Linked DNA regions of Homo sapiens. The protein of the gene in region 4 interacts with the protein of the main gene of each other region in a biochemical or structural test. Each region holds a gene or a part of one and is shown on either strand. Other genes may lie near its edges. The genes, in order: SPI1, HIPK2, GLI3 and SKI.

The links.
Region 1: the proteins of SKI (region 4) and SPI1 form a complex in vitro, tested with the Homo sapiens proteins (one study listed by BioGRID).
Region 2: the proteins of SKI (region 4) and HIPK2 form a complex in vitro, tested with the Homo sapiens proteins (one study listed by BioGRID).
Region 3: the proteins of SKI (region 4) and GLI3 form a complex in vitro, tested with the Homo sapiens proteins (one study listed by BioGRID).

The regions. Positions count from the first base shown.
Region 1 is NC_000011.10:47,368,231-47,376,346, reverse strand, and holds part of SPI1 (transcription factor PU.1), read left to right. Parts: intron 1-614; coding exon of another isoform or gene 615-617; coding exon 618-714; intron 715-8,116. UniProt on the Homo sapiens protein: Pioneer transcription factor, which controls hematopoietic cell fate by decompacting stem cell heterochromatin and allowing other transcription factors to enter otherwise inaccessible genomic sites.
Region 2 is NC_000007.14:139,560,391-139,565,435, forward strand, and holds the end of HIPK2 (homeodomain-interacting protein kinase 2), read right to left. Parts: 3' UTR 1,180-5,045; downstream 1-1,179.
Region 3 is NC_000007.14:42,233,828-42,242,276, reverse strand, and holds the start of GLI3 (transcriptional activator GLI3), read left to right. Parts: upstream 1-5,067; 5' UTR 5,068-5,306; intron 5,307-6,442; exon of another isoform or gene 6,443-6,531; intron 6,532-6,537; exon of another isoform or gene 6,538-8,449. UniProt on the Homo sapiens protein: Has a dual function as a transcriptional activator and a repressor of the sonic hedgehog (Shh) pathway, and plays a role in limb development.
Region 4 is NC_000001.11:2,230,724-2,238,839, forward strand, and holds part of SKI (ski oncogene), read left to right. Parts: intron 1-720; exon of another isoform or gene 721-8,116. UniProt on the Homo sapiens protein: May play a role in terminal differentiation of skeletal muscle cells but not in the determination of cells to the myogenic lineage. Functions as a repressor of TGF-beta signaling.

The DNA.
Region 1 (8,116 bases), on a different chromosome or scaffold from region 4:
GTTGAGTGTGCAGGTGGAATGTGAGTGGCTCTGGGGGTGTGAGTGTGTGTGTTGATGGCTGGAACGTGGTGTCATGTGAGTGTCAATCAAGGAGACTCTGCGTGTGTGCATGAGCTGAGTGTACAATGTCTCTGTGAGGTGGGTGACCTCTGAGTGGGTATGAAGATGTGTGTGTGAGGGATAGTGTGCAGGCGCCTGCATGGGGGTGGGTAGGGGCTGTGAGAGTGAGTCCTCGTGTGGGATTATGAGTGTGAGGGTGACACAGGGATCGTGTGGACATGTGCATCAGTGTGACCAGGAGAGGTGTGTGGGATGAGGATGGGGGCACACAGGCGTGAGTGTGAGTGTGAGCGTGAGGTGGCTATGGGGAGTAGCCCAGCAGAGGGGGACCCTGGTCCTCTTCTGACCTCTCACCCCCAAGGTCCCTGTCACCCCTTTTCAGGCCTTCTGGGTCCCCTGCCCCACTCTCTGTCCCAGTTCCAGGCAGAGGGAGGGCTGTAGGTCCAACGCAGCCACTGAGCCAGGGAAGGTGATGGGGACCCAGCGTGCGGGGGTGCTGCAGGCCTGGCTGGGGTCTCCCACCATGGTGCAGGCCCTGACACCTCCTCTCTCAGCAGCCATCAGAAGACCTGGTGCCCTATGACACGGATCTATACCAACGCCAAACGCACGAGTATTACCCCTATCTCAGCAGTGATGGGGAGAGCCATAGCGGTGAGTACGGGGCCTGCCACGCCCCCATCCCCCAGCCCAGCCTGGGCTCCTGGGGTCTGGAGAGAGAAAAAGAATAAATGATTCCCAGGACTTCTTTGGAATTCTGAGAATCAGATCAAGTTTGCTCTCAAAGGCAGTGAACTGCAGCATCATCGCTGCACCCCCACACCTGAGCCTCCATTATGGAGCCTCTGCAGTGTGTCAAGGTGCGGGGTTCATTTCTTCCATGGTTATCTGCTGGTTCTGTCCTTGTGGTCTTCTTTATAAACAAGGAAACAGGCTTAGGGTGCTAGGAGACTTGCACAAGGTCACACGGCTGCTGGGTGGAACCCAGGTCTGTCCGCTCCAGGTCCTGTGCTTTTTTTTCTGCCCCTGCCTAACTACCCACCTCCTCCTCTCTGTTCTCGTCACTCTCTGTCCCAAACTCCCCGCCGGCACATCCGCACTTCCTGCCATGTGTGGTTGGCAGGGTTTCCTAACTGTGGCACTGCTGACATTTTGGGTGGGATGATTCCTGGGTGGGCTGTCCCGGGTACCGTAGGAAGCTTAGTGGCATCCTTGCTTCTACCTACCACATGCCAGGGCCATGGCCAATCATGACAACCAAAAATGTCTCCACCCATTGGCAGATCCCCCCGGGAGGCAAAATCACCCCTAATTGGGAACTGCTGGGCCGAAGGAAAACCTATGAGAACCTCTTGTTCAGCAGAGGCCGAGGCCCCCAGTTTGCTGAAGTGGGAGGAAGAGGCCTGGGCCAGGGTGTCCTTCTGTCTGTCCAGTCCTTCTGGGTCTGACTGTCTGCCCCATAGCCCAGCCTCCGTCCTGGAGCAAATTCAGGGGATGGGAGAGAGGCATTAGGTGCCTGGGACCTGAGCAGGGGGCTGCGGGAGGTTGCCCAAAGTGGATCTTGGCTTATTGATGTAGACATCCCTGACCCAAAGCGAGGTGGCCTAGTCAGTGGGTGAGTCGTCACTGGGGAATTCCTCAGGGCGTCTGGGACCCGGGCAGACCAGCGACTGGGGTGTCTGCACCTCAGAGGGCAGAGGCCCACAGCCTAGGAAGGTGTCACTCCTGAAGGCCACCCCTGCGGCCAGTCATGCCTGTAGCTCCATTCTGCAGATGCACCTGTGGCGGTCTAAACCTGATGGGCCCAGCTAGGGATCCACATGTGCCTGGTCCACATTTAGGGCCCCAGATTCATCCGGAACTCAGACTGGAAGCCATATCCCAGGGGTAGGCGGATATGCCTCCAGGCCACAGCTGGGAACGCACAGGCATCTTTTAGAATCTTTCAGGGCTAGAAAGCCTTTAAAATATCCTTTTTAATTCCTTCAAGCTTATTTGTAATTATGTAAAAAACACATCCTCTTGGTGGGAAACCCAGGCAATGTAGAGAGAAAGTCCCCCTCCCCCAACTCCATCCCCAGCTCTCCCTACCAGAGTGAAGAGCCCGGTCTGGGGGACCCAGAGACCACGCACCCACCTTCCCAAGCGGTTCCAGGACTCCAGGAGGTCCCGCTGGGCCCTGGGACAGGCGCCCCCTGGTGGCTCGGGTCACCACAGACAGTGCTGTCAGGCCTCCTCCAACAAGGACGCATTCTCCCTGGCCCAATCCCTCTTCAGTTCACTGGGCTTGGGTGCGTTTCCTTTGGGCCTTTTGCAGCCTCAGTTTTCCTTCCTGTAATATGAGGGCGCTGCCCACATAGCTGGAAACCAGTGAGCCTGGGGCTGGGCCTGATGGAGTGAGCACTTTAGAGAAAGCATGTGTTTTCGTGGCTCAGGGTCCAAGCAGGTTCCTTATATCTCAGGTGGGACTCTAGGAATGACTCCTGATTGGATGCCTGGGCACCCCATGTTGGTCATGAACCCCTAGTTCCTCCAGAGACTCCACCAGTGTTCCCAGGTGTCCTCGGCCTTGGCTCTGTCCCACTCTTAATCACTGCCAATCAGGGCATTTGGGCTGTCCTTTTCTTTTTTTTTTTTTTTTAGGACAGTCTTGCTCTGTTGCCCAGGCTAGAGCGCAGTGGCCCAATCTTGGCTCACTGCAACCTCCGCCTCCTGGGTCCAAGCGATTCTCTTGCCTCAACATCCCAAGTAGCTAGGATTACAATCGTGCACTACCATGCCTGGCTAATTTTTGTATTTTTAGTAGAGATGAGGTTTTACCATGTTGGCCAGGCTGCTCTCAAACTCCTGACCTCAAGTGATCCACTTGCCTCGGCCTCCCAAAGTGCTGGGATTACAGGTGTGAACCACCGCGCCCAGTCTGTCCCTTTTTTTTGATACGGAGTCTCGTACTGTCGCCCGGGCTGGTGTGCAGTGGCACAATCTTGGCTCACTGCAACCTCCGCCTCCCGGATTCAAGCGATTCTCCTGCCTCAGCCTCCCAAGTAGCTAGGATTACAGGCGCCTGCCACCACGCTCAGCTAATTTTTTGTATTTTTAGTAGAGACAGGGTTTCACTATGTTGGCCAGGCTGGTCTCGAACTCCTGACCTGGTGATCCGCCTGCCTCAGCCTCCCAAAGTGCTGGGATTACAGGCGTGAGCCACTGCGCCCGGCCGGGCTGTCCCTTTTTATACCCGCTGGAAGGTATCGTCTGAAGACTCAACCATAGAGACCCCCACACACTTCTGTCAATTCCTGCACGTCCTCTTTGTCCACATTTTTAGGTACTGAAGCTTAGTGAAAAAGCTTTGGCCCAGCCCTGGCTCCATCACTTACCAGCTGTGAAAACTTGGGGCAAGTAACATAACCTTTCTGAGTCCCTATTTCCCCATTTATAAAACTGACAGCATGAAAATACTTACCTCCTAGGGCTGTGATGATTCAGCGAGGTAAGGCATATAATCTCTGAGGTAAGGTAACGTGCAGAGGACGAGGCCCGTGCTAGCTTCACTGCATTCCTCAAGGCAGGAGGGACAAAGCGGCTGGGGAGTGGGAAAAGCACAGAGGGCTCTGTGAGAGACCAACTGGGTTATTTTCCACTGACCCAGGGGACAGTCAATCTGCCACCCACCCCCACATCCATGCACTCACCCTCCCATCCACCCACCTACTCGTCCATCCTGCCAGCCGCTTCCCATCTGATCCACTTTTCCTCCCTATTCCATCCATTAAATAGTTTCTGAGTATCAGACACTCTTGTAGGCTCTGGGGAGTCCATGATGAGCACCAGACAAGGCCACTGCTCTCACAGAGCTCACTCTCCAGCGAGGGGATGGGGACATAAGGAATTAAATAGGCTGGGGCGTGGTGGCTCATGCCTGTAATTTCAGCATTTTGGGTGGCTGAGGTGGGTGGATCACGAGGTCAAGAGATAGAGGCTATCCTGGCCAACATGGTGAAACCCCATCTCTACTAGAAATACAGGTGGTGGTGCCCACTTGTACTCCTAGCTACTTGGGAGGCTGAGGCAGGAGAATCGCTTGAACTCCGGAGGCGGAGGTTGCAGTGAGCTGAGATCGCGCCACTGAACTCCAACCTGGTGACAGACAAAGCGAGACTCCAGCAAAAAAAAAAAAAAAAGAATCAGACAAAGAGACCATTTTCTGCAGATGTAATGCGGAGTGTCTACATGGGGGGCTGCTTTCATTTGAGTGGTCAGGGAAGGCCTTTGAGGTGGCAGCTGAGCTAAGAGAAGGAACTCGTAATTCACATGTGACCATAGGTAGGGGAGAGGTATTCAAGGTAAAGGGAACAGAAAATGCAAAAGCAGAAAGGACCCTGACAGAGGACCAGAGAGGCCAGTGAGCACAGGGCAGGGGACAGAAAGGGAAGCCAAAGGGGTCAGCTGCTCACGCAGGGCGAAGGCCATGGCAGGCATTTGGATTTTATCATACACACCATGGGAAGCCACTGGGGAGTTCTGAGCAGGGAAATGACATGACCATGATCTGAATAACCTTCTGTGTATGTGTGTGTGCTGAAAATTTAAATACATTTACAATCTTTTTTTTTTTTTTTAAGACGGAGTTTCACTCTTGTTGCCCAGGCTGGAGTGCAGTGGTGTGATCTTGGCTCACTGCAACCTCTGGCTCCCAGGTTCAAGCGATTCTCCTACCTCAGCCTCCTAAGTAGCTGGGATTACAGGTGTGCACCACCATGCCCAGCTAATGTTGTATTTTTTAGTAGAGATGGGGTTTCACCATGTTGGCCAGGCTGGTCTCAAACTCCTGACCTCAGGTGATCCTCCTACCTTGGCTTCCCAAAGTGCTGGGATTATAGGCATGAGCCATCACGCCTTGCCTTTTTTTTTTTTTTTTTTTTTTTTTGAGATGGACTCTCGCTCTGTCGCCCAGGCTGGATTGCAGTGGTGTGATGTCAGCTCACTGCAACCTCCACCTCCCGGGTTCAAGCGATTCTCCTGCCTCAGCCTCCCGAGTAGCTGGAACTACAAGCGAGTGCCACCATGCCCAGCTAGTTTTTTGTATTTTTAGTAGAGGCAGGGTTTCACCGTGTTAGCCAGGATGGTCTTGATCTCCTGACGTTGTGATCCACCCGCCTTGGCCTCCCAAAGTGCTGGGATTACAGGCGTGAGCCACCGTGCCCGGCCTCCAGTCTTTCTATTCCAGTGCTATGTAAATGTACAAATGAAGATGTGGAATAGAGACTTAGAGCATTATTTATTGGCAAATATTTATTGAGTGCCTTTGATGTGTCAGGCAGCTTGATTTTTCAGTTAGAGATATATTTTATTTACTTGTACAATCAGAATTCAACTTTAGTCATTCACAACACACACACACACACACTCACATTTCTCCACACATCCCCAATTCATTACTCTATATGGTAACATTTGTTAAATCAGTATTTGAATTTTCCACTGTTATGACCATGTGGCTATTACTCACAGCTGAGCCACATGGCATCCTTTCTTTACCTGTACTTTCTCATATCCATATTTCTTTTAATTATTATTATTTTTTTATGAGACAGTCTCACTCTGTCGCCTAGGCTGGAGCACAGTGGCGCAATCTCTGCTCACTGCAGCCTCAGCCTCCTGGGTTCAAGCAATTCTCCTGCCTCAGCCTCCTGAGTAGCTGGGATTACAGGTGCCCGCCACCACGCCCAGCTAATTTTTGTATTTTTAGTAGAGATGGGGTTTCGCCATGTTGGCCAGGCTAGTCTTGAACTCCTGACCTAGTGATCTGCCCGCCTCGGACTCCCAAAGTGCTGGAATTACAGGCGTGAGCCACCATGCCTGGCCTTTTTTTTTTTCTTTTTTTTGAGACGGTGTCTCTCTGTGTTGCCCAGGCTGCAGTGCAGTGTGCAATCTCAGCTCACTGCAGCCTCCACTTCCCGGGTTCCAGCAATTCTCCTGCTTCAGCCTCCTGGGTAGCTGGGATTACAGGTGTGTGCCACCATGCCCAGTTAATTTTTATATTTTTAGTAGAGGTGGGGTTTCACCATGTTGGCCAGGCTGGTCTCAAACTCCTGACCTCAGGCGATCCACTGGCCTCAGCCTCCCAAAGTGCTGGGATTACAGGCGTGAGCCACTGTCCCCGGGCCTCATCCCCATATTTCTGAGGGGAAATGTAGCAAGGAGATAAGAACTCTTCTGAAACCAGGCTGCTGAAACTCATCCCCCATCTCCTCCATTGCTATCCGGGTGACCATGGGCAAGATCTCCAACCTCTCTGTGCCTCAACTTCTTCATGACAATACCAACTTCACAGGATGGCTGTAAGGACTGAACGAGCTACTGTATGTCAAATGCTTAGAACAGTGCCTGGAAATAGCAAATGTTTTGTACAGATTTGTTATCATGGTCGTCTCCTAAGAAAGGGTGTGTGGGAGGTGAGGTTTTTGTTGTGGTGGTGATGGTTTTATTTTGTGTTTTGCCTCATGTCTTTTATTCTATGCTGTCACTTAATTAATCATAGTTTGGCTGTGTATGGAAATCTAAGTTGAAAATCATTTTTTCCCTTAGAAATTGGAAAGCATTTTTCTACTGTCTTCTGGTTACTAGAGTTTTTCCTATGAAGTCTGATACCACTCCATGTTCCTTTAAATTTCTTTTATAATTAACCTAGCTTTTTGTTTGTTTCATTTGTTGTTTTTTTTTTTTCTCTCTCTCTCTTTTGTTTTCTTTCTCTGGAAGTTTTTAGTATCTTTTCCCAATGTCTCATGATTCAACTGAGTAAGCTTTTTAAAAGGTCACTCTGGGTGGAGAGCAGATGGAAAAGAGGCAAGAATAGGAGCTGGAAAAAAGAACATTGAGGAAACTATTGCAATAATCCAGGAAAGAGATGGTGGTGACCTGGACAAGGGTGGTGGCAACAGAGACAGAAAGGGGGGGACAGATTCAAGATAGACTTTGAAGGGCTTACAGGATTTGCTATTGTTTATTATGCTTTTTGTTTGTTTGTTTGCTTTTTTGAGACAGTCTCACTCTGTCACCCAGGCTGGAGTGCAGTGGCGTGATCTCGGCTCACTGCAACCTCTGCCTCCTGGGATCAAGTGATTCTCCTGCCTCAGCCTCCCGAGTAGCTGGGATTACAGGCATGCGCCACCACACCTGGCTAATTTCTTTGTGTGTATTTTTAGTAGAGACAGGGTTTCACCATGTTGGCCAGGCTGGTCTTGAAGTCCTGACCTCAGGTGATCCACCCGGCTCAGCCTCCCAAATAGCTGGGATTACAGGAATAAGCCACCATGCCCAGCCTATTACTCTTTTTAATTGTGGTAAAATACACATAATATTAACCATTTTTTAAACCATCTTAACCATTTCTTTACATTTTAAGTGTATAGTTCTGTGATATTAAATATATTCACGTTATCATCACCATCCATCTCTATAATTATTTTCATCTTGCAAAACGGAGACTCTGTATTCACTGAACAACAGCTCATTTTCCCTCCCCCCAGCCTCTGGCAGCTACCATTCCACTTTCTGTCTCTATGAATTTGCCTATTCTAGGTACCCCGCATGAGTGGATTCACACAGTATTTGTTCTTTTATGCCTTCATTTAGCATAATGTTCTCAAGGCTTACCCATTTACCCATGGTGTAGCACGTGTCAGCATTTCCTTCATCTTTAAGGTTGAATCATATTCCATTGTATGCGCGCGCCACGTTTTGCGCATGTGCCACGTTTTGCGTATCCAGCCGTCCGACACTTAGGGTGTTTCTGCCGTTTGGCTATTGTGAAGAACGCTGCTATGAAGAAGGGTGTGGAAAGACCCTGTTTTCAATTTTTTTGGATATATACCCAGAAGTAGGATTGCTAGATCATATGCTAATTCTATTTTTATTTTTTTGAGACGGAGTCTCACCCTGTCACCCAGGCTGGAGTGGAGTGGTACGATCTCAGCTGACTGCAACCTCCGCCTCCCAGGTTCAAGTGATTCTTCTGTCTCAGAATCCCGAGTAGCTGGGATTACAGGTGTCCACC
Region 2 (5,045 bases), on a different chromosome or scaffold from region 4:
TTCTGATGTATGCCATAACATGAATGAACCCTAAAGACATTATGCTAAGTGAGATAGACCAGACACAAAAGGACAAATATATGATTCTACTTACATGAAATATCTAGGATAGGCAGATTCATGGAGACAGAGTAGAAGGGTGGTTGCTAGGCACCGGGTGGAGGGAGAAATGGGGAGTTGTTAATGGGGACAGAACTTGTGTTTGGGATGATGAAAAAATTCTGGAAATGGTGGTGACACCTATACAATAATGTGAACGTATTTAACGTTGCTAGTAGTCCACTTAAAATGGTAATTTTATATTATGTATATTTTACCATAATTTAAGACAAAAAGAGTGTCAGAAGGCTGGGAAACCCCAGTCCCAGCAGGATGTGGCGTTTCTTAGGCTTGCTGAGGTGGAGCTGCTGCAGGCACAGCGCCTGGACGGGGCTGTGGCGCACGTAGCTCAAGTGCGCAGTGGCAAGGGCCCTGGCAATGGGCCAGCAAGCCACGAGGCTCCGGGTGCTGATGGTGTCTGGTGAGACGGCAGGGCCTGGGTGCGGAGGATCCGGGATGCATATTGGAAAGCTTCCAGGACAGCAGGTGACAGCCACACCTTAGGTGTCAGGGACAGAGATTGGGAGCAGATGGGGCTGAAATGGCTTGGAAGAGGCAGCAGGAAGCTGGGAGACTCTTAGCCCCACTCAACTGCATGGGAATTGGTAGTAATGTGATCTCAAGGCCCCCCACCTCTCTCTGCAAATGTTCAATGCAGTGGTGGCTTCTACACATTTCCAGAGCCATTAAATAATCTCGGCCCGGCGCAGTGGCTCATGCCTGTAATCCCAGCACTTTGGGAGGCCGAGGCAGGTGGATCATCTGAGGTCAGGAGTTCGAGACCAGCCTGACCAAAAAATGGAGAAACCCCATCTCTACTAAAAATACAAAATTAGCCGGGCGTGGTGGTGCATGCCTGTAATCCCAGCTACTCGGGAGGCTGAGGCAAGAGAATCACTTGAACCTGGGAGGCGGAGTTTGCAGTGAGCCAGGATCGTGCCATTGCCCTCCAGCCTGGGCAACAAGAGCAAAACTCCATCTAAATAAACAAACAAACCCCAAATATGTTACTTGTAACAATAACCTCTTCGCTTTTATGACAGGTCTGGTTCCAGGATAAATAAGCATGCCAGGCAGGTGTACAGTGATTTCAAACAGTTTAATGTAATTCCAAGACAAAGTGTGATTACATTTCTACACATATACAATATGCATATGTGAGTTTACAAATTTTAATTAATAAGTCATTTCACCTCGGAGACCGAAAAAATGATCAAAAAGAAACTATGAGTAACAAGCTATAACATAGTTCACCACAATGGGACCCCCCCCCCTTTTTCTCACCCTACAGTTAGTAATATTACAATTAAAATAACTATATTCTTCTATATTTTTTCTGTTAAAATCATCTCATAAATTTACAATGCTATTATTAGTTTCCAAGACTAATATAAATTCACTCCATTTTTCTACAACGAAAATGATTAATTTAGAAGCACACGACGTCATGATGAAAAACACAAGCATTTTAGTAGCAAGGACTTGATCAGTTAAGAATTAGTTTTCTTGTAAAACATTCTAAAGCCAAGTAAAATATCCATTCTTATAACATACCTATAATATGAGACTAAGGAATAGGTTACATATAGGTCTACAACACATTGGTTTGTCTTTAAAAAAACAAAAGTAGACATTTATAAATAAAAAAGAGGGACAATTCACATAGGAAAAAGAGGTACACGAGAAAATACTGTTGCACGCAATAATTTTCACACAGATTAACATGGATTAACACTTTTTATTACAGAAACCGTACGGTGAAGGAACACAACAGACCAGGGCTTTCATAGGGTTATTGAGATTGAGCTGAGATGACCTGGGAGAGAAAGATCTAGGTGAGATGACCCTGGGGAGGGAGCCACGTTCCTTGGACCTGGTGACTTAGTGTCGCCGGGTCTCCTCTTCCCTGTTCTCATTTTGGGGAGTGAGTCTTTCTATCCAGTGTCCTGAATTCATGAGCAGTTGAAAGGTAAACATTTCTGCAGATCCATTCTCTTTCTATCCTAATGGATACCATTTTTGGAAACGTGACAGAGTATCAGAGGCTGCAGCTCAGTACACGTGGTCAAAGCAAAACGGGATGGAAACTTCCAGTCACTCTGATTTGTTGCCCCCGTCACCCACTGATGCGCTTGAAGCTGGGACCCAGTGAGACAGCAGCAGCACCCTACAGGGCCTGCTGGCTCTGCCGTGGTGAGGTGGATGACAAGGGCCCGGCGCCACGCCTCAGCCCCATGTGTGCGGAGTGGCCTGGGACACAGCCCATGCACGTCCAAGACACCAGTCTTGACTCCGACCTCTAAAGAGCTCCTTCTCCTCATCTGTAAAGCTATACTTCTCCTATCCAATTTGGTTTGATATATATACACAAACATATATATCAACATCTATCTCTATACAGTGATTCTACTAAATTAGAAATTCTGCTGCCCCAAAGTATGACTTTCTTGTCTATTTCATTTGGTTAAAAAAATGCACACACAGAGGATGAAGAGATGATTTGGGGGCTAGAGATGACTGTGCCCTGGAAAGTCCATGGAAGAAGCTTGAAGTGAGCAGGAACACAAAAGGGAGGAGAGCAGAAACGGGGGACCGACTGACTCAGGGCAGCGCTGACGGGAACATCTGCTTGGGGTGGGGCGGGGCGGGGGTGTGCTCTCTGTTCCATTTGTTAGTTACAGGAAGCTACCAAGGATGCACATGGTCAAGTCACTTTCTACTTCCCAAGTTCCTCCTTATAACCTGAGCCAAACAATTTCAACAATGACAATCCATTGCCCCTTCAGCCCAGCAGGCGACTCTGACAGGGAGGTGTGACCACCAGTCTCAAGGCTGAGTGGGGCCTTCTTGCTGGCTCTCGCGCTTTCTGGGAGTCCTGGGTGCCTTGGCCCAGGGCAGTGGTGACAGCAGGGTGGAGGCAGAGGTGGCCCCGGGGACAGTGACCCTATATAAGGAAGGGGGCGGTGCCAGGAGAGATTCGTTTGGAGATTGGTTACAAGGAAGCGAGGGAGAGCAGAGGCAGAGCCCTTTTTCAGATACAACATACTTACTTTTCAAATGAACAAAAGGCAATTTCTATGTTTTAAAAATATAAGCCCCAAAAACAATGACACAAAATTCATTTGGTTAATTCATGTAAAGGAAAAAACAGCAACACCACCACACAAACAGGAAAGTGGGAGTATGATTAGGAGGGGTGAGATGAAAACTATTTTACAGTAACATTTCCACCAAAAGACTGTCCTAAGAACACGCTGTCAATACAGTTCACAGGGAAAAAGCAAATGTGGTATTTTTTTGTATTTTTTAAAAGCTCCCTGGTCCCAGGTGTTTTGCAGTTTTCAAGGTCTTATCTGCTAAAGGAATGCCCTTTAGGTCACAGCAGGTCCTCTGCAGTTTGGTGGTGGCACAAGAGAAAACATAAAAGAAACCAAGACTCAGGGAAACTGCCATTCCCCCAGTCTGTTTCTGCATGACAGTGGGGCCCATTCCTGTCTCGAAGCATCTTCTTGTTCCAAATATGATGTCTGTTTAGAGTGGGTCTCAATGGACCAGGCTGAGCTGCCCCTCTGTCTCTGCCTCCTCCTGCTCAGCCCTGACCATCTCTGAGAGGATGCTAAGGTCCCCCTCCCACCGAACTAGACTTTGAGTCTAAGCTGGACAATGAGTAAAACGTAAACATAGCCTTTTACATTGATTTTGCTTTTAAGGGGAAAACGAATAAATGACAGCAGATATATGGAAAACCCAGCCAGCGACCATGGGAATAGGGGTATATGGTCCTCCCCTACAAAACGCTGATCAAAATATCACCCCCGGCCCAGAAGTAGCAGCTGTGCCTTCATGGTCACCTGAATCCCAGTCTCTTCTACTGCCTGGTGCCTGGAAATCAGTGGATCTATTAATAAGTTAAATATTCAAATCAAGACAAAAATCAATGAACCAGGTTATCTGTTCTCAATGACTCTTCCAAGATGTCAGAGAGAAGGCCTTGAAGACAAGTGTTTAGACGACACGCATGAGACCTTCGCATCTGGCCCGGGCTGCGGACTCACACCTTTTCCCTCCATCTGGATTGCCTTTCATGTTCTCTTGAGTTCACGTGGAAAGTAATAATCCAGAGGGAAGTGCGCATGCTGGACTACAGAAGAGTCTGGGACAACACACTTGCCTTGGGGGAGACACAACCTCCAACTAAGAGGCATTCACTGGGGTTTGCGGATGTCAGTTATAAACAGAACTTTTCTTTAAAAAGTACCAGTCTAAATGTAAACTATAAAACACTTTAACTATAAAACGTAGCCAGAAATATGCTTAAGTATCCACAGTCAATTGTTTAGTTTACTCATTTAAAATGTGACTGTTTTGATAGCTTAGAAGGCTAACAGCATTTTACAGTAGCTAAAAACATATATACTTAACATGTGCATTTGAACATCGCATTTGAGTACAACACACAAAGAATAATCTCTTCCTTGGTTTAATTTTTGTTGTAAAGATGAGCTATTTTCAGAATTCACTTAAGCAACGATGACCGGGGGTATGAAGTAATCATTATTTTCAGCCCACAGAGAATTCATAGTCTTTAAATTCCAAGATCAAGCTGGCTACATGATTTCAAAAAAGGCTAAAACCAGGATGAATGCCCACATTTGAGGTAATTATTGCCATTAGGTCACAGTTTGTGTAAGATAATGTATCTAAAACCTTCTAAAAAAAAAAAAAATCTTTAGGTGTTCTGCCAGAATTCCAGAATACCTATTGAAACCAACCAGGATCTCAAACTCCGATTAGTTAGGTTTGCTTCCAATGGAGTTAAAGTTCTAAAAGATTCTAGAACTTGTGTAAACTACCTAAGAATTTAGGCAAACAAGCCTGGAGCCAGTCAACAAAGAAGGTTTTAAATGAAAAAAGGAACAAGAAACCCACTCAAAACAACTGAACAA
Region 3 (8,449 bases), on a different chromosome or scaffold from region 4:
GGAGTACAGGCTTCACCTGAAGGCATGCAAAATTTACTGGTGCATATCAAATTAACATGCATTGGCAGATGACATTTGCCCTACAGACCACTGCTTGTTACCCAGCTTTAAGAAAACTCAAAGAAAGACAGAACATTGCTGCCAGGTGGATAAGAGATGGTCATGAAGGTAGTGGAGAGGCCTCAGAGGGATAGAAGAGACAGGTGAAACCACCAGGTCACATAAATAAGTTCCTAGGGAAGGAAGGAGAGACCTCAAGAAAACACTGGTTACTGAAGTGTTTGGTTTGAGACAACTGAGAGAAAATTATTTTATTTAGAAAAAGCGGGATACAGAAAATCATCTCTAGGCTGCCTAAATGATGAGTAAAATCCACCATGCTCACCTCATGCCCGCTGTGAGCGAGTTTCCAGAAGAGCAGGCAAGGATCTGAGTATAGGGTATGGGTCAATGTCACACAGCATCCACAGGGGCTCTGAAATTTGCAGAAATCCAAAGAGAGGGTTTTAGATCTTCCCAACTTGTGGGATTGGCGGAGGTCCAAGCCAATTATAGCTACATCTCCAAGGTGAAGAGGGACACAGCAGACATCTGGGTTACATTTATAATCCCAATGTTCCAGGAAGATGGAAGAACAAGTTACGCGGGTGCTGAGTGAGAGACCCCAAGAAGGGCCCCGTGTGCGATGCACTTAAAAGTATTCTCCTTCCTGGCAGCTGGCCAGTCAGCGTGGGGAGGCTCAGGCCCAACCACTCTTCACCAGAGTGTTTCCTTTCCCAAGGCACTCCTGAGAGATTCATGTGGCCAGGGATCTACCTTTGTTCCCTAGTACTTTCCTTACATGCAGGCTGGCTGGCAAAGTGTGTGCAGAACACGCAAAATCACCAGGACCCAGGAAAGCAGAGTGGGCAGGAGGAAACCTAGAGAGGTGAGCCTGGCCAAGGGGAATATCGGATCCACTTGGGAAAGGTCATTATTTTCTGGGAATGCAAACTCTCAGATTGATTATGAAAATGCAGCTGCCTCTGGCCACCTTCCTCGGTTGCCTAAAGAAACTTTGTATGAAGTGTGAATAAAGTGGAGCCGAAAGATGAAAACAGAACCCAGTAGACGTTATTGGAGCCCCTAGATCCTGTTTTGCCTAAAGCATGCCTACATGTTTCTGGACTTTTTTGTCAATAAAAACAGCCACCCAATCCCTCTGAAGTTTAACTTAAGTCAATTGGAGGTGGAATTTTGTCCCATGCAACTTGAAGTTTATTAGTACACATGGACTATCCTCCTGGAATTTTCCAATAATTAACTGGGTGCTACTGTGCAGGGAGATGGAAGAACTGCCATGGTAAGTGAGGGGAGAAAAGTATTTGTATAACATCGGCCCATGGTAGGAATCAGAGGAGCACGTGAAGTTTGTTTCCAGGTTCATCCTTTGTTCTCTCTCTTGCGTATCCTTCATTCCTCTCCCACTATCTTTTGCAGTGTTGTTAGGAGTTGAATTATGTCCCCCAGAAGAAAATGTTGAAGTTCTAACCCTAGGAACCTCAGAATATGATCTTGGAAACAGGCTTGTTGCAGATGTAATTAGTTAAGATGAGGTCATTCTGGAGTAGGGTGGGTCTCTAACAGAATATAACTCGTGCTTTTATAAGAAGAGAAGCCAGAGACAAAGGGAGAATGCCATATGAGGACAGAGGTGGAGACTGAAAGGGAGAAGCTGCAAGCCACGGGACACCCAGATTGACAGCCACCACCAGAAGCCAGTAAGAGGCAAGGGAGAAATTTCTTTTCCAGGTTTCAGAGGGAGTGTGGCCCTGCAAGACACCTTACTTTTGGACTTCAAGCCTCTAGAAACTATAGGACAATACATGTCTGTCCTTTAAGCCATCCAGTTTTTGGTACTTTGTTACCATGGCCCTAGAAAACAAATGCAAGTATCTTCAAGTATCTCCTACTTCACTGTTGCAACAACAAGAAAGAAAGTCTGTCTTAAAAGCTTAACTATTCTGAGGACTTACTATATTAAAATTTCTTAAGATATCTGCATTTGAAAAGAGAACTGATGAGAGATGGCAATAAGTCAATCTATGATAGAATTTCAGACATCAAGGAAGGGCAGTGCACAGAATCCTGTAAGTCTCTTAGTGCTGTGTATCACTACAAACAAAGGTTGTAGCATTGTCTTTCTGGGTGTCTTTGGGTTTTTACAGATGTCTCAGGAGCAACTGCAGGAAAGGGAAAGAGAGAAAGGCTTAGGGGGATTGGGCTCCGAGACCTCACTCCAATTTCAACCATAATAACTCTTCTATATTTTGGGATTCTACGTAAGATTTAATTTGGAAAGCGTTCTGGTGTTAACACAGAGAGAAAGTCACTGCATTATGACATTATTTAACCCACACTCAGGCAAAGTGGGTTTTTTACCCCTCCACTGTTTCTGCAAAATGTGCCTACTTATATGTATGGGTTTACCATTAAAGCAGAGTTGGACACATAAGAGACACAGCATTATTCTTCCTCTTTTTTGTTTAGCTATTGTGACGGGCATAGGGGGAAAGATTAGCTGCTTTTGCTTTGTTCTTGTCTTTTAAGAACTGAAAAATCAAGATCTTCATGATTCAAAATGTGCTATAAGACTGAAGTAAGAGTCGAAATATCTAGTTTATTCTATTATTTGATGATTTATTGGCTGTCTTTCTTTGTATTTATTTTTTGCCATTGGGTGAACAGAGTAGGCTATCAGGATGTACTATTTGTATTCATGTGATTGAGGCAGAAGCAGTACATGAATACTAAAAACAATTGTAACTGATGCTGGGAGTATATAAAGGAAAGAGTGGCTTGCAATTCTCTTCAATTGTAAAAGCATAATTCTTACACACTTGTAGCCCTCTATACTTTTCCATGTATTTCTCATTGGAAACCCTCAGCCATCCTGGGAGGTACGCGACCTGGCACTCCTAACACTATCCCCTAGATGGGCTCAGAGCCTATGGAGGCTCAGAGAATCCTCCCAGGCCTGAGGCCAGTTAGTGAGCGCGGAGATGGGGCTGCCACAGGGCTTCTGAGTCTCGTGCTCTCTGCGATGAGTCAGTGGTGTTTTGTTTTTTCCTGAGCCGTGAGGTCGAGGGAAATCTTAAAACAAATGGCTAACTAGGGCCTTTAGCCCCACCTTACCTCCACCACTTCCACCATAAAACCTTAAGTCTGTCTCTGCACTTGTCATGTCATTGTGACAAGGAAGGAGTCCCAAGAAACAAACAATGAATACCACCCTCAATTTCGTTAAAAGATTCTTCAGTTAAGCATTTGAATCTCAAAATGCTCTTCAAATTCTAATAGCTCATCATTCATCCACCCACACTCTTCCTTCAGTCAAGACACTTGGCGGCAACGCCACACAAGCAACCCGGAGCTCCGGGGCACTTCTGGCTGGGTGGACCCGGCTTAACCAGAAAGAGGGGATGTTGGAATGTCACAGGGGCTTTCTTTTCTTTCTTTTTCTTCCTGTGTTTCCCCCCGAGAACTCCTTTTTTAAGTTACATGTCCAGGTTGGATATATTAAAATGACGCAGATGAACAAGGACTGGATGGTCGAGGAAGGAGGCCAAATAACTTTTACTAGCATGGGCCTCTGAAAATGAAGCAGGGACAGAGACACTTTGTAGCTCAAGGAAAAGCGGCACGTTAGAGACCAGGCTCCAAGCCTGGGGTCTTTGTTTTTGTGTCTTTTATAAAGTGGCCCATAGGGACAGCAGGCTGTGTGGTGGGAGCTCCTCCTCGCTTCGCGGATTTGGCCCCGAGGGCAGACGAGTCCGGTGGAGAGAAAAACCCTGAACTTCCAAAGGCATCATCCCGCGAGAGGGAGTTTCGGGGATGGCTTTGGGAAAATGTAAAACAAGGAGATGGGGAGCCAAGGATGGGGGGCGGTGGTAATCAGAGAAGCCTTAAAAGAATAAAGGGGAGTCCAGCCCTTGAGCAAGAGTGAGAAAGAGAGGCTGGGTGGGAGAAGATGGGAGCAGACAGGACGCAGCACGAGTGCCAGGGCGCGCATTTGGGGGGTGTCCTGGCGGTGTGGAGAGAGAAGAGAGAGGGCGCGGGTGACATCACGCCCGGGCCCCCTTCCCCTCGCCGGGTGGGTGGGGCTTCGGCGCGCCGGGAGGGCGCGGGGTCAAGTAGGGGGAAGAGGAGGAGCAGGCATGAATGTGTCTGTGTGAAGACCGGGGAGGGGCGGAGGAGGAGGAGGAGGAGGAGAAGGAGGAGGAGGAGGAGGAGGCGGCGGCGGCGGCGGCGGCGGCGGCGGAGGGCGGGGAGGGAGCGCGCGCGTGGCTCGCGGCGCCCGGGCTCCCCCCCAGCCCCCGACCCCGGCCCGCGACGCGCCGCCTCCCAGCCGCCGCCGCCCGCCTCGCAGCTGGGACCCACTCCGGGCTTGGGGACCCGGCGGGCGGGAGAAGCGGGGGCTCCCGGCGCGGCCTGGAAGGAGCGAGAAAGCAAAAGTAAGGCGAGCAGCACTCCAAGTTTTCCCAACTTCGCCCCCTGCGGCGGCAGGCGTCCTGCTGCTCAGCGCGTCCCCTCCGAGCCCGAGAGTGGCTGAAAGAAAAGGGACTGGGCGGGGGCCGGGGCGGAGGAAGAGAGAGTGCGAGGGAGCGAGGAGAGTCCGGCAACATCTGTTAAAACTTGGGGGAGGAGGAGCGCGGGGAGGAGGAGGAAGAGGAGGAGAGAAGGGAAGGAGGGAGCGCGCGGGAGGGGAGCGCGGAGCCGAGGGACAACTTTTCCACCCCGTGAGTAGTGCAGGCGGTGCCAGGTCGGGGCGGGGGGCTTCTCCACCCAGCACGGGGCACCAGGCCGGGATGGGACCTTTTTCCAGAAAGTCGATTGGATGCCAGGAGAGGCGTACGGCTGGGGGTTTCTTTCTTTCTCTTTCCCCTCCCTCCCGCGGTTGAACCAAATCAGAACTGTCACTCAGGGCTTGTGAGTCAGAAGGGATCGGATTACACGATCCCCGAAACTGATGCCGGAGCTGCACGAGCGGGAGGGAGCGGGCAGGGGCAGCGCCACCGGCGCGCTCGCACACTCGCACTCGCGCACACCCGCCGCTCCCACTCACCCGCGCCGCTCTCCCGCCTTCCCCGCGCGCCCCGCGGCCGCCCGCGCCGCACCATGCCCGCGGCGGGCGCACCCCGCGCCCAGCCCGGCCGCTCGCGGTAGCCGTAGCCGCCCGCGGCCGCGCGGAGCGGGGAGCCGCCAGCCTGCGCCCCGTCCGCGGGTCTATGGGAAGTTCGGGGACTTGACAGCCGCTGCCGCCGCAGGTACGTCCCGCTCGAAGTTCTTTGTTTCGCGGACCCCGCAGCCCGCTCCTGCGGCCGCGCCCGCGCCTCCGGGGCCAGAGGTGGTCCCCAGCGTGGGGACGGGATGGAGTGAAAATGGCTGTCAAAAGGCGCCCAGATTTAGAGAGCCGCCGGTGAGGCGTCCGAGCAAGGCTTGCATTCGCTCCCTCCTCCTGGAAGGTCCTTTCCGAAGAGTCCGACCCGCGGACCGGCCGGAGACGGATTGGAGAATTTCACCTCCCGGAGGGGGGACGAAGTTTGCCGCAGTGGTGGCGGCGCCCCTCGCCTCCGCCCCCATCCAAAGGGTTCAGAAGAACTCCGCGAGCCCCGCACGCGCCTGGCTCCTTCCTTTGCGCGGTGGCGCTCTACGGCTCGGGCTTCGGGCGCGCACGGCGCTCGGGATGGGCGGAAGGAGGCGGGAGGCATGGTGGGTGCGCGCGGGGACCTCCGCCGCGGGGGCCGCCGCCGCTGGGGCTTCTCCAGCCCGGGCTATGCTTCGGAGGGCGGGGGTGTGGTGTGAGCGGATGGAGAGAGGCGCGCCTTCGTCGTCATAGAGGAAAAGTGAAAGTTGTACCATCTGTATATGATTTGGGATTCTCTTATTTCTTTTCCTTTCCAGGGGCAGCGCGCACAGACACACAAAGTAACCGTGGTCCATGCAATAATCATTTAAGGTGCCGCGTTTACACAGAGCAGCAGGGGACAGTTACTTTCTTGAGTAGCAGCGGGAAAACGGGCGGGAGAAGGCAGAGAGGGTGTAAATATTGATCCCAAACTTGCAGAGTTTGTGAAGCGACTTTTAAGCAGATTGTCCGAAGCGGACGCTCCACCCCGCACCCGGCCTTTTATCCTTTCCTGAACTTTGTGCTCCTGTCCCCCATTGCACCTCCTTCTGTAAGATGCCGTCCCCCGAGAGGCGCTGCACCCCAGGCTTCCCTGCCTGACCCCGCGTGGAAAGAGGATTAAGGAGGCTCCCTCCGCCGCTGGTCATCCTGCCCCAACTTCTCATCTCCCCAGTGCAGACTGCCGGGTAGATTCTGGCCTTGGGTACAGTGCTCATGGCCCTCTGCCAGTTTATATGTACATATATTTATGTAAAACATTTTCTCCCAGCTCTTTGCCAGCTGTTCCACATTTTCCAGCTGCCACTTCAGTTTGAAATGATGGACTGTCTGCGTCTCCAAGTCAAAGAACCCTTTAGTCAAAGGTATGGAGGGCCGGCCGCTGTGCAAATACATGGCAGTGCCATTAGCCGGGCTGGTATTATTAGTTCTAAAAAATACCTCCTGCTCCCCTTTTCCTCTCCTCCCTCTTCTCTCCAGTTAGGCTTTCCAGAGCACAGTATATACACTTTGCTGAAAATTCGAGTAATTAGGCCTTTCCCTCTTAAATGTGATTTTTGTACAGAATTTGGATGAGGCCGTTTTTTTAGATCCCTGAAATATGTGTCTGGTGGAAATAAATTAACTTTTAAAAATAAAAGAGTTTCAGCTTGAGCGCATTGGGCATGGCGGGTGGGGGGCCTGCACCCTGGCCGTCTGAAATGAGCTCTTTTCAGTCTATTTAAGGCAGGAACCATTCATCCTCCCCATGCTACACTTTTTGTGTTGTTTGATGTCTTAGCATATTATAGACCGAAATCTACAAGAATTGACCTAAAGTATTAATTTTGAGTATTTATGTAATTGCTCGGTAATTTTGAATAGGTGCCTTATTGATTGATTCCTGTAATTATTTCATTTAGGTTTTAGATTAAAAATTAATAGTAGTCTGACAGTTTCTTAATTACATGTGTCAAGATTCTTTTGAAGGAGGAAAATGCTATGTTTTAAAATAGTGAAATAGCCTCAAAATCTCTTAATTTTTCTAAAGCAGAACAGTATTTCAGTTGAGGGGATATATTAAAGCTGCCGGGACTGGTTTTAACAATGTAAACTCTGTGAAGTATCTGAAGAATTTGTTTATGTTAGGAAATATTGGTCTTAACGACCTGGTACACAAACACTTTGGCCAGTTAAACTATATTCAAACCTAAAACAAACATGAAATAACATTTAAATTAGTTGTAATAGCATGCTTATACAGAGTAGAGAGTTTATTTTATACTAAAAGCTATTTAATTAGAAACTCCCCGCCTAAGGGGAGATCCTTTCAGGGTATGCAATTCTTAAAGTCAGCCTAGGGAAGCTTTGGTTTAAGATGCATGAATGAGTCCAATGTGAGAGGTGTCTAGTGAAATTTCACACAAGCAGAAACACTTTAAAGATATAGATTGTATTATTGTTAGTAGGCTGGTAGGTCCAACTCAGATGCCTACCAATTCCCAGTGCCTTTAACATGCTTGTGTTCCTTGACTGAACCTTGATATAAACACATTTCTATTGTATATCTAATTTGCAAAGGACCATAGACAGAAATGAGAAAATTCAATACTGATGAAAAATGGCTCTGTAGAGTTATTTCATTAATTATTTAATGAAAGAATTGTTAATTTATCAATTCGATGTGCAAGCCTAAAAGTTGGACTTTCCTTTGTTTCTTGGCCAGTGAAGTTTCCTTAATTACCTGCATGCTGTAAGCATTTCAGACTTCCTCTGTGCTTAGCCATTTAGAGGTCCTTCCTCCTATGTAAGGTATCCTGCTTACTGAGACCTCTTCTCCCCCTCCATTTTTTGAGGATAGAGTTTGGGAGCTTATGAAAAGAAACAATTTAATGATCATTGTTGCATGCACTCACTTACATGGAGACAGTAATGTACTAAGAAAAACCAGTCTTGAAGGAAAAGTGAATCAATGAGTCATGAAATCCTCAAGAAAACCTTAGCAATGGAATGTTAATGCTTTTAGACTATAGTAGATTATCTTAAAAGTCAGACTTTTCTTCTTTATGCAATTGTTGTAAATCCCCAGCTAAAGAATTCTTTGAAGGAGGTTTTAGTTTTGCTGGCATTCATATTCTGAGGTCGGTCTGATTTGTTTTGGAAGATTCAGTAAATTTTCTGCCAACTTATATCATGAGAGGCAATTAAAATGCTGAAATGACTTTATAGGACACACACACACATACACACACGTTTGTTAAACAAAAGGTTCCACTCTAATAATGACTTCAGGTTGTCTTTTCA
Region 4 (8,116 bases):
TTAAATATCCAGGCTTATTAAATTGCACACACAGAATGCTGCATTGGCTCAGCTATTCTTGGGAGGCCTAATTAATTCAGCTATTGCATCAAACTTTTTTTTTCTAAATCTGTGAATAGATGCTCCAGCCCGGTTTTCTCTGGGCGCCCCTCCAGCAGAGTGTCAGATCGTGGGGAGGAGGGGCTGTGGATGGAAGCGAGGGACTGTCGCCTCTGCTCGGAGGGGGCTGCGGAGGGTGCATGTGTGTGTGCATGTGTGTGTTTGTGTGTGCGCGCTTCTGACCCTGCCAGGCCAGGGCTCAGGTGGCAGCCGCCTGCAGACCTGTGGGCTGGGGAAGGATGCTCGTGGCAGAGCTGCAGACAGACGTAGCAGGCTGGGGCCCTTCGTGTCACACGGGGAGTTGGTTGGGGTGGGCCCGATGGCGCTCCCTGTGGGCTGGGGCCTTTCTTTTTGGGGTGGCCGCACCCTCGTCAGTGCCTGTGGCTGGAGGAAGCCACATGTCGGGGGGGATTGTGGGCTCGTGCAGGCTGCGTAGTGGGTCACCTGTGGCCAAGGCCTGAGCTGCTGGGACACGCTCACGTCACTGTCTTCAGAGCTGATGGCAGAGGATCTCGGTTGAGCAGGGTGTGTCTGCGTTTGTTTTTGTCCGACTGTGGGTCATGTGTGTGCTTGTGGTCTTTCTGTCTTCCTGGGCTTTGCTGGGGGCCCATTGGAGTGGCCAGTGGGGCCTCGTTGTCACAGCTGACACAGAGCAGGGCCCAGGCCACCCGGCTTCTCTCTCCCTGTGGTTGTGAGCGCCGGGGTCCTTGGGCCGCCATAGAGACAGGCCAGACAGGCTCTGGTCATCTCAGCGGATGCCTCCGAGCCGCCTTTCCCTTTTGAAGTCCCCAGCACTGCTCTGAAATTTCATTTACCGATTAAAAAGCAATTCCCAGGCCATACTGACGACGTGCACGGTGTGAGTGACTGCGTCCTCTAGGCCTGAGTGGCAGCCACACAGCCTGGCCCTGGCAGTGGTGTCCTCCGCCTGGCTCCCTGAATGTTCACCAGCTCCTGCGGGTTTTCCTCTCCTCATGCTCCTGGGGGTGGGGCACCCATCCTGCCCGTGTTGCCTCCTGCTCTATGTTCTTGACGTGGGATGGCGGCCAGGGACTCTGCCCTCGCTCAGTGCCTGCCCTTTAGGCTCTGTGACTGTGCACTTGGGAGTTCTGGGCTTCAGGGTCCCCTTAAGTCTCCTCAGGACAGCCGTGTGCGTGTCTCTGTGTGCACAGGAGCGACACATGAGAAGGGAGTGTGGTCTCAGGGTGGGCGTGGACCCACAGTGCCCAGACCCTACTTGTCCTAGAAGGAGTGGCCTGGGAGGCCCCGCCTCCGCCCTCACTGGCCGCCGTTGGCTCCTCCCACTCGTGTCTTGACAGCTTATTCTCGGGATATGTTTTGATTTCTTCACTTCCTTTGTAGCTTATTTTAATATTTTTGATCTGCCGAAGATGAGGGCAGAACAAAGAATGTACTGGAACTCTCTTTGCAGGGCTGCTGCTCCCAGCAGGCCTTCGGGCTCTGCGGAGCCGGAGGGGGCTGAATTGCCTTCCGGGTGTTTGTGGCCAGGCCAGGGTCGGGTCTCCTGCCTGAGTGGGCTGGGTCAGCGCCACTCTCCTACCCATGGTGGGAGGTGGGAGAGGGCGGAGATGTTCCCGGGTCCCAAACCAAGTGGGAGGCAGGGCTGCAGCTTTCTCCTTGGAAGCCTCCTGTGACAGCGGCTGTGCCTGAGCCTCTGGCCTGTCGGCAGTGCAGTGGCAGCATGAGGGGCAGACAGTCTTCCTCCAGATGCCCCCTCATGTCACGGGGTTACAGAGGAAGCCTCCGCTTCTGTCCAGTGGCTGTCGGGCCCGGCCAGCTTCCTGCTGCTGTATCTTGGAAGACCATGTGGGCTGCATGGGTGCTTGGCGAGTCTCCTCTTAGGGACCCTGGGGCTGCTATCCTTGACAGGGGACCTTGTCTCACCTCCCCACTCGGTCCCACACTGGCTTTGTGACCTTGGACGAGTTGCTTAACCTCTCTGCCTCAGTGTAAACTGGGGACTACTGTTTATTGATCTTGGACTTTATGTTTTGAGTGGTACAGGTGGGGCACAGATGGGTCATTGTGCTGCTGGGAGCACTTAGCCAAGACTGGAGCCTCTGAGCCTTCCCCACTCCCACCCCTCTTTCTTCTTTCCGGTCGGCTCGCCTCCTTCCTCGGGTTCTCTGATAGCTGTAGGACTCCATTGGACTACATTTTTTTGTCAGTATAGACAGCTGTCAGAGACGGAGACAAAATGTGGCAGTTGGAGCTGCCGCTTGGCCTGCTGCCTGGGACGCGGCCCCTTGTCCCGCAGAACGTCAGCCAAGCGCTTTCCGTGCAGGCTGATAACAGGGTGGTGCCGTGCTTCCCTTGGGCCGTGGCAGGATCCTGCTCCAAGGGGGGGTCCTGCTCCGAGGGGGCCGGGGTTTCTGTTCCAACAGGGCTGGTGGGGGGGGTCCTGTTCCCAGAGGTCCGGGATCCTGTTCTGAGGGGGCCAGGGTCCTGTTCTGGGCCGGGGGTCCTGCTCCGAGGGGGCCGGGCGTCCTGTTCCTAGGGGCGGTGGGCTGCCTGTGTGAGAGCTGTTCTTCACCTGCCACGTGCAGTCTGGGCATTCTGGTGACTGGAGAATTTGGGTTGTGTTACAGTGTTGTTGCTCTGTCCTGCAGATGCCTGAATTCCCAGGGGTCTTGCAGGTCCCCTTGCCCTTGCGCTGTGTGGGCTGGCGTGGGTCTCAGTGGGCTGTGGGTTGAGGGTCGCTTGGTTGGGAAGCTCTGCGCGCTTCCCAGTGGAGGGTCCGCGACGGGGGTTTTCTGATCCCTCATGCTGGCTTTTGACCCGTGTCACTGCAAGGCTGCCCCTGGCCCCAGGCAGCGTTTCTTCAGGCAGGTGCCCAGCCAGGTGGTCGGGCTTGAGACCTTTGAGTCTCGAGGTCTGTTCTGGGGAATGACTGAGCTTGTGGAGGCCAGGAAGGGGTTGCTGGGCTTGGAGAGCCTCTGGGGAGGAGTTGTGTTTTGCTCTTTGCTGTTTTAAGCTGAAATGATCACAGGAAGGGACAGCATCAAGAGTTTCTTTCTGGGACACCCCTCACTCAGCTCAGCGGCCGTGTGTGGGTTTGGGGCTGTGCTCTCCCAGACACCCTCAGGTCCGGGGAGCACTTCGGGGGCTATCTGTCCCTTTGTCCACCAGCTTCCTTTGGAAAAAGTGTTTGCTGCAAGTGTTTTTCTCCAGCTTTTCGTGGGGTTCCCTGTAGTCTTGGGCCATGCTCTGGGGTCAGGCTCCCGGCAGGCCCTGGTCCCCGTGCAGAAGGCCAGGGTCTGCGGGTTTGGGCTGGTCTGCCCCCCAGGTGAGGGTTCCGGAAAGACGGCCGGCTGCTGAGTCTTCTCAAGCAGGGGAAACAGCAGCTCGAGAGTGGTTCTTGACCTCTGCCCACCCCAGCTGGCTGTGCACGGACTGGGGAGGGCATGGGCAGCTGCCCCCAGGTGGCTTCTGCAGGGAGCAGAGCTTAGTGGTCATTTTCCCGGCATGGTCTGTCATCCGTCTGTCTGGGACCCCTCTGGGAGCTGGGCTGGGTCCCTCGCCTTCTGGGGCAGCAGGGTCACGGTGGGGGGGCTAGTCCTCTCTTTCAGCATCTTGTTTCTCAGCCGTCCCTGCGGCTATTTGTGCAATGTCTGTCTGTCTGAGTCTCCGGGTGAGGGCAGACAGGATATGGTGCGAGGAAGTCTGGGGTAAGTGTGAGCCGAACCCCGCCCTGGAGTCTCTCGGGGTTGTGGGGCCACAGCCCCAGCTTAGGTTAGGCCTTCACTGCTGCTGGCAGGGCCTCCAGAGAGAAGGCGGTGGTTCCGGGGCCTGGGCCCTGACTGTCTGGCAGGAGGTGTCCACGCCGGCGGCCCGGCTCTCTGTGGCAATAATGTGTCTCTTTCTAAGGATTGCGAAAGTTGAGGGAGGATTTCTCCACTGGAAGAATTATGCAAGCTTCAACTGAAATGTTTTTAAAAAGTTTCTTTGTTTTGAGTCAAAATACAGAAGGTGAATTATTTCCCTAATATCTGGGAGAGCTGGAAAAGAAGGCCCCTGTCCTTATTCTTCAGGGCTCTTCCCCTCCTGAGCAGTGGTCACCAGGCCAGGGTGTCATGGAGGGGGGGCTGCCTGGGGACCAGCTCTTTACACCTGGCCTCCAGAGCGGGTGGTAGGGCGGCTCCTTCCTGCCCTGCCCTGGCTGTCACCCTCGTGGTCTGGAGCAGGGTTTTTTTTTGTTGTTATTTTTTTTTTTTTTTGAGACAGGGTCTGTTTCTGTTGCCCAGGCTGGAGTGCAGTGGTGCGATCTTGGCTCACTGCAGCCTCCGTCTCCTGGGTTCAAGCGATTCTCCTGCCCCAGCCTCCTGGTAGCTGGGATTACAGATGTGTGCCACCACACCCAAGTAATTTTTTTGTATTTTTAGTAGAGATGGGGTTTCACCATGTTGGCCAGCCTGGTCTCGAACTCCTGACCTCAAGTTATCTGCCCACCTTGGCCTCCCAGAGTGCTGGGATTACAGGCATAAGCCACTGTGCCTGGCCCCTGGAGTGGGTTCTGCCACGGAAGGCATCCCCGGGGTCTGCGGGCTGGAGGGGTCGCCCCCACTGTGCCACCTGTTCTCTCGAGGCCTGGTTGCCCTCTGCAGACCAGGTGCCATGCCAGGTGACCCTCAGGAAGCTCTGGCTCACCCCGGGGGCTGGGGGGCATGATAAGCGATAGCTCTTAGGTGCTGCTGCTTTGTGAATATGAGAGAGTTCCAGAAGGGCCCCGCTTCCCAGAGCCTGCATGTTGGTTTCACTGTGTGGTACTTGATATTTTTCCAGGCTGCCTTGCTGGGGTGGCCTCGATGGGGGGCCCAGGGAGCCTCCAGCTCTGGGGACATGCTGCCACATGAGCCTGCTTATTTACGAAAATGAAGAACCAGGACTTGAGTGTGAATTTTAAATGAGATTGTGGGGACAATAGTAAAATCCAGACTAGGACCAGATGGACTGAGCACCTGCGTTGGCCATGGCCCGGAGGTGGCGTGGTGGTGCCTGGCGCCTGTGGCCCTCAGCATGTGTCCTGCCGGCCGCCTAGTAGGCCTTCGCTTGAAGTGCTTATTCCTTTGAGTAATGCTCCTGTCTTTTGTTTGGGGGGAAACAGATAAAGGGGGCTTTGAGAGGCGTCTCGGCGTGATCCTGGGAAACGGCCGAGATTCTGTTCGGTGCTTGGTGTTCGTGTCTTCTCTGATTTTACCTTTTTGACTCATAAAGATGGAAGGAGTGCTCTGCCTCGGTGCCTCTGCAGCTGCAGATGCTGAATCGGGGCGTTTAGGCCTGCCTCTTGGGCTGGCACACCTGGCGGCCTTGGTCAGGCCTTCTTGGGCTGCCTCTGCTGGGGTGCTTGTCTCACTGGCCGTGGGGGTTGTTGCCTGTGTGGTTGTGTTGCTGGCTTCAGGGGCTAGGGTTAGGGACGCCTGGTCACGTCTGGGTCCCCAGTTTGGGGGCCAGATTCAATAACTCACTGAATGACTCAGTGGAACTCTGCAGGCACTGGCAGTCAAGGTTTATTGGCAGGTCCATTCTTTGGCTAGAAGGAGAATGCTGTTTCTTTTCTCACTGTTTCACCATTTTTTTTTTTGAGATGGAGTCTTGCTCTGTTGCCCAGGCTGGAGTGCAGTGGCGTGATCTCGGCTCACTGCAACCTCAGCCTCCCGGGTTCAAGCAATTCCCCTGCCTCAGCCTCCTGAGCAGCTGGGACTACAGGTGCGTGCCACCACGCCTGGCTAATTTTTTGTATTTTAGTAGAGACGGGGTTTTACCATGTTGGCCAGGATGGTCTCCATCTCCTGACCTCTTGATCTGCCCACCTCGGCCTCCCAAAGTGTTGGGATTACAGGCATGAGCCATTGCGCCTGGCCATTGTTCCACCTTTGGAAGAAATTGGTTCACCGTCTTCTGACCTGGGGGGCGCTTCTACCCTGGTTCCATATTGAGGGCTGGGAAGTTGCTGGAATATTATTACCCTTGGCTGGTGAGGCTGAGTGCTGATGCTCCTCCCAGCTCTCAGCCCTGCCTGGACCAACTGCGGCTTCTGCTGGAACGTCGGCGGCTGACTTAGAAAGAAACAGCTCCTGTTCTAGGCTTCCTGCAGGTCCCACGGTGCTGCTTGTTTCAGAGAAACGCAGCTCAGGCTGGCGGCCTCAGGTGGGCATGGGTGGCAGGGGATGCCATCACCCAAATCAGGGATCTTTCTCTGTCCTGAGGGTTCCACCCCAGGACCCAGGGCACTAACTGGGTTCTTGTGTGGCCCTTCCCGACCAGACCTGACCCCTGAGCTGCGTGTGTGAGGTGATGGTGACTCCACGACAGCTTGTGTGCCGTTATGGGGGCACCTGAGGACTGGCTGACCTCACCGGGAAGTGCGTCAGGAGTGGGTGAGGGGTGGTGGGAGGGCAGGGAGCGCCCAGCAGGTGTCCAGCGGTGCTGGCGCTGCCTCTGTCTCTCTGTCCACGCCCTGTGTGTATCTGGAGTGGCTTAGGTGCTCCCTGCGGTGCTCCTGGCTGCTGTGGTTCCTGAAGGCTGCGGCTGTGCCGGTGGTTTCCTTTGATGTCAGTCTTCTTCTACAGGGGAAACCATGTTGCCAGGAGAGCCAGGTGTCCGCTAATTACGTTGTGTTGTTCTGCCCAGGAGTGAACCTGTAAGTGATGAGAATAAGAAGCGGCTGTCAGCCTGCAGACCCGCCCTCACCCTGTCCTGGTTGGGGTGCTGCCTGCTGGGAACCCCTGGTCCAGCTGTTGAGAGGAGGCTGACTGGGGGCACAGTTGTTGCAGAGTCTGATGCAGGCTTTCTCTGCCGGGAAAGTAACATGGAAACATTGTTGCTTTTACTATGGAGCAGATGTATCTTTGCCCAGAAACAGAAATGCTCTTGGTTTCTTTTTTTGGAAATAAGGCCCATAGGCTGGGTCCTTCTTGCCCTGTTGAGGGAACGTGTCTGTCCTTAGCGTGGAGGCCAGTCTGGCCGGGTGCTGAGCTCGTCCTGCAGAACACGCGTGAACGCCTCATCCCTGAGGGCCCCGGGAGGCTGGCGCCCTCTGTGGGAGGTCTGAGGTTGGCCCATTTGACCCTATCCAGGACGGGTTACTTAAGGAGTCCAACGGGCCTTGAGAGGCTGATCACCCTCGTGTGGCGGGCGTCTCTCCCCGGTGCCCTCCCGCCTGGTGCTGTCAAGGGCTTCTCTGTGCCAGGCGCTGGGCTGTGGCAGCCCCAGGTCCCCGCCTGGTGTGGCTGCCCACGGTCCAGGCAGCTCCAGGGTGGGCATCCTTGGCTCCCTCCCTCACCAGCTGGCCCTGGGAGGTCTGTCTGAGAGGAGTTAGGCCTCATTGTCCGTGCTCAGAGAACCCGAGCCTTCCTTAGGAAGCAGTTTGTCCCCGTGCCTCCCTTCAGGATCCTGTGGCCTGAGAAGCCTCTGCGTGGCAGTGGATGGCAGCTCCAGCTGCCCGTGGCCCTCTTTTTTTATGGTTTCCCAGATGACTGGGCCAAGCTGGGCCTCTGCATCCTAGGCATGCTGTTCCCTGCGCTTCCCTGGAAGGTCGGCGGCCCTGCGTGGACCTACACGGTACCCAGGACAGGCCTGCCATGGCACCGGTTGGGCCTCTGGGCACAGGGTGCTCTGCCTCCATGGCCCTGACAGGCTCTGATGCCTGAGGATGGGGGCCGGGCACTCCCAGCCTTGAGACTTCCCTCTGCAGAGGTGGCACAAGCCCGGGGCCCCAGAGTGAGGGGACTCTTGCCTGCCTGGTGAGGGTGAGCGTGGGGTCTGGACTCTGACCCCTGGTCCAGGCGGGAGAGGAGCACACTGGACAGGGCAGCCGAGCCACCCTCTGCGGAGCTGTGGACACTGCGTGTGTGGTGCTGAAGGTGTACACGTCCACTGAGGCCACCTGCGCCGCTGCCTGTGTCCTGTGGGCTGGCACTCACCGAGTGAGAGCTGTGTGCAGAACCTCCGCTGTCAGCGGGCCAGGCCACACTGGGGAGGGAGGTATTCCGTGTGC